Linked DNA regions of Homo sapiens: all the other regions are linked to region 3. The links come from fine-mapping of genetic effects on gene expression. A gene starts in region 3. Each other region holds a variant in brackets. All regions are shown on one strand. Distances are between the middles of the regions.

Region 1 (2,764 bases), 150 kb before region 3:
CGGAGTCTCACTCTGTCGCCCAGGGTTGAGTGCAGTGGAGCGATCTGGGCTCACTGCAACCTCTGCTTCCCGGGTTCAAGCAGTTCTCCTGCCTTGGCCTACGAAGTAACTGGGATTACAGGCACTCGGCACCACGCCCAGCTAATTTTTTGTATTTTTAGTAGAGATGGGTTTTCACCATGTTGGCCAGGCTGGTTACACACTCCTGACCTGAAGTGATCTGCCCACCTCGGCCTCCCTGAGTGCTGGGATTACAGGTGTGAGCCACCGCACCCTGGCCAGTCTTGACTCTTTAGAAGCAATGCAGAAGGCCGTTTTGCCATAATTTTACCAAGCGCTAATAGCATCCCATGTGTGTTAAGGTTAGTGCACTGCATGGAAACACGTAGCCTAGTCAACCACTCAACAGCCACATGTCAGTGTGGCTTTGTTGTTCTTCAATCATGTAGACTATTCAAATTATACTTACTGAATTTTATGGGATGATATAATATTGTTTCATGAGATTTACAGTTTAAGGATTCAGAAAGATCTGGGCCTCTTAAGAATGTCAAAGATCTATTATCTATGAGAAGTTTTCATATAGACAATGGCATAAGGCACATGTGGGGGACTGTTGGTGATATTAAGAGCCAGACCGGTAATTCCACAGACAATGCTACCTCTCTTTAAATAACTGATGCCTGTTTCAAAGTTAAATATTTGCAAAATAAACTAATTGCAGCTGAAGCAGAAAAATACTAAAAAAAAGTATTTTGAAGCCATTTTATTATTTATGCTGCCTTTATTTTTTATTTTTTTATTTTTTTGAGACGGAGTCTCACTCTGTCACCCAGGCTGGAGTGCAATGGCGGGATCTCGGCTCACTGAAACCTCTGCCTCCAGGTTTCAAACGATTCTCCTGCCTCAGCCTCCCGAGTAGCTGGGATTACAGGTGCCCACCACCACACTCAGCTATTTTTTGTATTTTTAGTAGAGATGAGGTTTCACCATGTTGGCCAGGCTGGTCTCGAACTCCTGACCTCGTGATCCGCCTGCCTTGGCTTCCCAAAGAGCTGGGATTACAGGTGTGAGCCACTGCGCCCGGCCTATGCTGCTTTTTAAGATACAGATGCTCTGACATCTTTGAAATATTGCAGTTTTGGGAAGTCTCACGTATTGCTGAGCATATTTTTCCCAGCATATCTTTGAAGGCACTTAAGGAAAACAAATAAAAATGTTTTTTAAAAATTCATTACTAAGCATAAGATAGTATATGGCTATGGTGAAAGAAATAGTGACTTATGAAATAAATTGCTTTACTAAACAACTTTCTTTTTATGTTTACTTAGATTGCAAATTAGGCCTGGTACTTTCTTTGAGGACCATGATGATAAGAAAATATTTGTATCAATTATCTCCATGCTGTAGCCTAGATATAAAGAAACTTAGATTGAAGAATTCATTTTACTTGTAAGAATGGGTTACATTCTTACAATAGGCTGGACAATTACTTTTCCTAGGATATTAGAAAAAAACCTGG[C/T]CAGGTGTGGTGGCTCATGCCAGCACTTTGTGAGGGCAAGGCGGGCAGATCACCTGAAGTCAGGAATTATAGACCAGCCTGGCCAACATGTTGAAACCCCATCTCTACTAAAAATACAAAAATTGGACAGGTGTGTGGTGGGCGCCTGTAGTCCCAGCTACTCAGGAGGCTGAGGCAGGAGAATTGCTTGAACCCAGGAGGTGGAGGTTGTAGTGAGCCGAGATTGTGCCATTGCACTCCAGCCTGGGCGACAAGAGTGAGACTCTGTCTCAAAAAAAGAAGAAAAACCTATGGCACTTTTTGTCTCTCTTAGAACACTATTCATATTCTACCTTGAAAAACTGGTTGTGTAAGTCAATTTCCTACAAAACTATAAACCAGTTGAGGGTAAAGATGTTAGTGTCCCTTAAAAATGTTTTCCCCTATGCTTCCTAGCGCTGTGTACACACAATAGGCACATAATAGGCACTCAGTAGATAATGAATGGAATGCAGCCTGCATCTTGGGGAACTAGGAGCCTAACCCACAGTGGGTTGGTGAGTTATTCTCCTCAATGATATCTGGCACCTTGGGGAGCTATTTATCATTTTCTTAAAGAATGATCATTTTCTTCTTTTTTATTTTTTCTATGCTTTCTATTTTTGTCTTTCATCTTCCTTTCTTCCTGTTTCTTCCCTCCAAACTATGCCTTTGGCTGCCTGCATGATATTCCAGCCACTGCACCCATAGGCACTTCCTAGACCTGCAGGGGGCATTCCCTGGAGTTCAGAGACATTCTGGGGTAGGCTTCCCATCCCATGATTCCATCAAGAACTTGATCACTGTAGCACCAAGGGAGGAAATGAATTCCTGCTATCTGTTCCCTATAGTTACTCTATTTTTACTTTTTTTTTTTTTAGACAGAGTTTTGCTCTGTAGCCCAGGCTGGAATGCAGTGGCACAATCTCGGCTCACTGCAACCCCTGCCTCCGAGGTTCAAGCAATTCTCCTGCTTCAGCCTCCTGAGTAGCTGGGTTTACAGGTGCATGCCACCACGCCCGGCTAATTTTTAGTAGAGACGGGGTTTCACCATGTTGGTCAGGCTGGTCTTGAACTCCTGACCTCGTGATCCGCCCACCTCAGCCTCCCAAAGTGCTGGGATTACAGGCATGAGCCACCGCACCCGGCCTCTATTTTTACTATTTATTTATTTATTTATTTATAGTAGAGATGAGGTCTCCCTATGTTGCCCAGGCTGGTCTC
Region 2 (2,764 bases), 100 kb before region 3:
TATTTTTATTTTTATTTTTGTTGGGACAGGGTCCCATTGTGTTGCTCAGGCTTGTCTTGAACTCCTGGGCTCAAGTGATGATCTTCCCACCTCAGCTTCCCAAAGTGCTGGGATTACACGCATGAACCACTGTACCCAGCCATGTTTTTTTATGAGCTCCATGGACATTTTCAAAGTCTTCAGACATTTTTTTCTTACAAGAAATTTGGTCATTTGCCTGTTACCTGAAAGATTTTTCTTTTTCTTTAAAGAACCATTACTTGACTATGTCTTGGTGTTGATCTTGGTATGGTCTTAAGAGTAGGTTCAAGTGTTTTATTTCAGAAAAGTTTTTTCGTATGATGGTTTTCAGTATTTGTTCTGTTCCATTACATGGGTTTGTTTTTTAGGGACTCTAATTATGAATGTATGTTGGGTCTTCTTTGACTAACTTCTTCTATTATTTTGTTTTTTTGAAGAGTTTTTTGGTAAAAACTGGAAAACCTGCCAGAGAAATTCTAAAGGATCTGTAACACTTGACTAACTTCGTTATTTTAAAAATTTCCTCCATTCTCTTTCCTCTTTTCTTGTGGGGTCTTTTACTTTGTGTTCCAATTAGCTTGTCTTTATTTCTGAAATAATTTTCCTTTTTTTCCTTGTAATTCTTAAGTAAATAAGAACACTATTTTTTGACCGATTTATATTAAAAATTGGAGACTTCCTGTGAACAAGTCTTGAACATCCAGTGTAATTTTTAAGTTATAGCACTTGTGAAGAGAAATATTATTGAAAAACAAAACAGTAAAACGCATCTCAGTCTCCATAGTTTTATAGGTACATCTCATTTGGTACAAGTAGAACCTGTAATGTTTATAGAATTGAAATGTAAATCAGTTTCTTCTGAACTTATTTGTGTGATTTAAAGTTGCTACTTTTTATTTATTAATCTTATAGGGATATGTTGAAAAACAAGATTTTAAATATGGATTAAAATATAAATAATTTTATTAACCAAAAATGTCAGTTTATTGGAAACATAAACAATTTTGTGTCTGTTGGGTGAAAAGTAGAATATGTTGTTTTATGCATATGATAGATTATTTTCCTTAACATTTAACAGTTTAACAAGTTATTTTGTGTTTTGTTGTTGTTGTAGTAGTTAACTACAGATGGAATTATTCGACAAAGAATCGTCAGAGGAACTCTCAAACTAATAGGCTTTTCTTGTTTTTAGAGCCTTATTGTCTTAATTATTAAAAGGCAGGATAAATGAATAGGTACTTTGAAGGCCATCTTAGTAAATATAGCCAGGCCTTAATTTTAGGTATTGTATATTTATATTTTTATAGCTCTTCGAGAGGTAATGGGAGAAAGATGCAGCTGAAGAAAGATGCAGCTTGGTGTATATTATTGTGAACTTTCCGAAGGCAAGAAAGAATTTCTGTTTTTCATGATTCTTTATG[C/T]TTTGGGAAGAATGTGGTAGAGAAGGTGCAGTGTAGAGAGAGATAAGTAGCTGCTTTACTGTCAGCATAGAATTAGAATTGGAACAAATTTTTTTTTTAATCACAGCAGAATGTTCTAGGTTTGAAAAAAGGATTTCTGTTTTCTGTTACTTTAGTTTTAAGTTTCTTACCTCAGTTCCATTGGTGCAGATAATCATCTGGTGATTAATATTTCACTTTGCAATATTTTGAGCATGCATATACTTAAATTTATTTTGTATATTAATAGTGGCTATTCTAAGAATGTAGGTGTTGGATACGGTGTGGTAAAGTCTGGGTAGCTGCAGGGGGATATGAGAATAAGGCTTAGAAGGAAGAATTTTATTATACTCACAGGTCTCAGGGAGGGTCACTGCATGCTACACAGGGGAAGCACCAGGTTTTAGTCAGGAAGCAGAAGACAGGAGCCACGGAAAAGTCCAGGCCAGAGTATTGGGATTTCCTGGGAAAGGCAAGGGAGGGCAGAGTAAACAGTTGAGGATTGAAGAGTTTGGATGATTCCTCCAGGCTTTGAGCTGTAGAGGTGGTCTCTAATTGCCTGGTACCTGACTCTGGAATGATTTAGGGCAGGAAATACTGGCTTCGTATGTGAGCGTTAGATAAGGAGGTGGATTTGGCTGTAGACTCAGGATTGGTTGGTTTGTATATGGAAGACATGCTCCTGTGAGCCCTCTTATCTCTAAGAAAGCACTAGCCCTGGCCAGCAAGCTTTTAAAAAGCCAAAACATAATAAAATATAGTAAATAAGAAACATGTTTTAAATGCAGTGGCCAGCTGAAGTTCTGTTTACCTTGTCAAATAATTTCTGTGTTAATAATCTTTGAGAACCATAGCTTTCTCAACAATTGCTTTCCTTTTGGTTCTTTATTATTTTTTATAAGTTCTCATTTCTTTTAGATAGTGATTGCCTTTTCTAAACACTGAAATACGTCTCAAGTATGTAACCTGATTGAAATATTTTCACAGGAGCATCTGTAATTGTTTTTTGTTTGTTTTTTGAGATAAGATCTCACTCTGTTGCCCAGGCTGGAGTACAGTGACGTGATCACTGTTCACTGCAGCCTTGAACTCCTGGACTTAGTGATCCTCCCACCTCAGCTTCTTGAGTAGCTGGCACTGCAGGCACATACCACTATGCCTGGCTAATTTTTTATATTTTATGTAGAGACGGGGTTTTGCCTTGTTGCCCAGACCAGTTTCAAACTGTTGGGTTCAAGTGATCCACCCACCTCAGCCTCCTAAAGTGCTGGGATTATAGGCTTGAGCCACCACACCTGGCCTGC
Region 3 (2,764 bases):
TAGAATGATGGTTACCAGGGGCCTGGCAGAGGGCTGATGTGGAAGGGAGGGATGTTGGTCAAAGGATACAAAGTTTTAGTTAGGTAAGAGGAGTAAGTTTTAGTGATCTACTGCACAGCATGGTGACCATAGTTGATGATGTATTGTATATTTCCAGGAGAGTAGATTTTCACCACAAAAAATAAGTAGGTGAGGTGATGGATATGTCAATTAGCTTGATTTAATCTTTCTACAATGTATACATATATCAAAACATTACACTGTACGCTATAAATATATAAATTTGTCAATAAAAATAATTATATAAATATATATTTATATAAAACAAAATACATGCTAAGGATAATGCAATGAACTGCAAAAAGTTGTACAGGCTCCCAATAAATAATTTTTGAACGCCTAAGAGCTAAATAAATGCAATACATCACTCCCAGGTGTCTCCACTAGGGGGCCCCATTCCCTCCCGTTCCATCACCTGCTTTCCTCAAGGTCGTCTCCACCCTCCTATTTGTTGATACCCGGCCTCTGACCCAGTTCATCACTTTCCCGGGCTTCCGGGCGCCACCCTCTTCAGGTTTTCCTCCTACCCCTCCAGCCCTGCCCCTCTGGATCTCCCATCCTCCCAGCGCGCCAGACTGCATGCGGCCTCCCCGCCCTGTGTCCAAGAGGCAGCTTCCACTCCACGCGGGCAAGCCTGAGCTCCAGAGCCGTCCTCAAGCCGCCTCCCCCCGAAGCACTGGGACTTCATCCTCCCGGCTACTACTCGTGCCCAGGGACTAGGCCCTGAGCCTTCCCTTCTCGCACGCCCCATAGCCAAGCTGCTCAGCAGAACCTGACGGCTCCACCTTCAAACTACGTCCGGAATCCGACCCCTCTCCACGCCCACTGCCTCCACCCCGGCCACCTTCCTCGGTCACCCTGGCAGCTGCAATGACCAGGGTGACCTTTCTGAAAAGGGAGGCTCTGTTCGGAGCCCTCGCGGGGCTCCCCAGCACAGCGGCCTCCCATGCCCACCTGCTCGGGTGGGATTACTTTCCAACCCCGTTTCCATCCCCCTCCCTGGTCTCCAGCCGCAGCGACCCCCACGCAGAGCCCGGAAGACCTTGGGCCCCGCACATGCTGCCGGCCCGCTAAGAGCTCTGGGTACCCCCGGAGCGCCTTCCAGGCTTTCTCCTAGAGGCGCTGTGTCCCGACCGCGCTCCGGACCTGAGCCACGGCTCACCTGGGGCAGCTCGCGCCCCCGAATACAGTCTCCCACGCCCCGCCCCCCGGGGTGCCTCCCTCCCAGCTCTCTGTACCCACCCACCATCCCCCACATCCCTTCCTCCAACCGCTAGCCAGTCACCAGCCCGGGACCGCAGGGCAGAGGCCGGGCCGCGCATGCGCACCGCGGACCGGTGCCACCTCCGCTCGCGAGCCCGCGGCAGGCCCTGGGCGGTGCGCGCAGTCCCGCGAGAGCAGTGCTTGGTCGGGACCTCGAAGCCGGAGCCCGAGCGGGAGAGGCCGCGGAGACCCCGGCCCGGCGCAGGCAGAGACGCACCTGCGGGAGGCGGGCGCGCCGGCTGGAGAGGAGGCCGTGGGGCGGAGCGGCTCAGCGTTCTGCTCGGCTGCAGCGGCCCCTGCCGGAGACCCGGGCGCCGTGGTCTTCTTTATAATTGAAGGATTGTCTCTCTGTTTTTATTTGGGGTGGGGGTGGGGGTGGGGGGCGGCGCAGTGACTTGCTTCGACTTTGTCAGCTTCCAGGGTTCATTCCACTGCCCAAATATGTAGTGAGTTACTACCGGCTTTGCTTCCTCCTTCAGCAAACGGCTGGACCACACAACTTCAGGAGAGAGGATTTTAAATGTTAGGGTCATTTTCCCTAAAACGATTTCAAATGACGGTGAGTTGGTTCCCAGGCTAGGCCACCTAACCTCGAACGCAATGACGAGTGCACTCTGACTGCTGAGCTGAGAGCCTTCCGTGGCTCTGGGACCCAGTGACTCACGTGGCTCCGCATGTCCCCGTTCCCTTAAAATCGGAGTCTTTCCTTTTCTTGGATTCCGGCTTGCCACCAGCACCACTTGGCAGAATGGAATTGCTTGCGGGCATGTCAGTGGACTAGAAAGGGAAGTAAGTGGTCTGAGAACTTGGGGGCCAAAAATGTTACATTAACATTTTTTGCCTACCTAAAATCTCAGCCACTTCCCACAGTTTGGCTGGAAATTCAGCCCATGTTGAGGCCCTTCTCATTCCTGCAGGTGTTACCAGCAACTCAGAGGTTTATGGAGTAACGAAATTGGGGAGGGCCTCACATCCGGCTGCTGTTTTTCCCCCTAACGTGTATGGTGCTTATTCTGAGCCAGACACTTTTAAGAACTGCACATTATTAACCATTTTAAATCGTCCCCACCACCTGATGAAATAGGTACTGTTATCCCCACTTTATGGGTGGGGAAACCGAGGCCCAGGGAGGTCAAGTAACTGCGCAAAGCACAAAACTGTTGAGTAGTAGTGTTACCAGGGCAGTCCTGGAGAAATCGCTCAGAGGGCAAAACTGAGAGCTCATTATTTTCTTAAACAGTAGACAGCTGAAAATGCTCATTGTTTTTTAAACCGTTTTGTTTGTTTGATTTTTTTTCCTAGTCTCTTTATCTATAGGTAACCCAGCTTAAAACAACTGCGGTTGGCCCGGGATCCTCACTGCCCTTTGCCAAGTACCAGAGAAAGATAAGGCCTACTAGGAACCAGAGAAAACCAGAACCAGCCACCCCTTGTTACTTTT

What was found. PIP is the estimated chance that this variant, and not a neighbour inherited with it, causes the effect.
Region 1: its variant is the best candidate, but not a certain one, in a credible set for the expression of SIRT5 in tibial nerve (GTEx, PIP 0.71).
Region 2: its variant is the best candidate, but not a certain one, in a credible set for the expression of SIRT5 in cerebellar hemisphere (GTEx, PIP 0.78).

Annotation. Positions count from the first base shown.
Region 1 is chr6:13,720,204-13,722,967 of GRCh38, reverse strand. No RefSeq gene overlaps it. Among named protein-coding and RNA genes, the nearest start is that of RANBP9, 9.8 kb to the right of the region's middle. The variant C/T (reference allele first, on the strand shown) is at 1,523.
Region 2 is chr6:13,677,833-13,680,596 of GRCh38, reverse strand. All of the region lies in intron 2 of RANBP9 (RAN binding protein 9), which reads left to right. LOC124901523 (U7 small nuclear RNA) reads right to left here and starts at 517; the gene lies at 456-517. The variant C/T (reference allele first, on the strand shown) is at 1,443.
Region 3 is chr6:13,573,083-13,575,846 of GRCh38, reverse strand. SIRT5 (sirtuin 5) reads right to left here and starts at 1,246. Exons shown (of 10, transcript NM_012241.5): 1 at 1,103-1,246. LOC105374937 (a long non-coding RNA gene) reads left to right here and starts at 1,413. Exons shown (of 2, transcript XR_926497.4): 1 at 1,413-1,882; 2 at 2,626-2,764. RefSeq lists enhancers at 309-894, 484-963, 895-1,481 and a silencer at 1,174-1,693.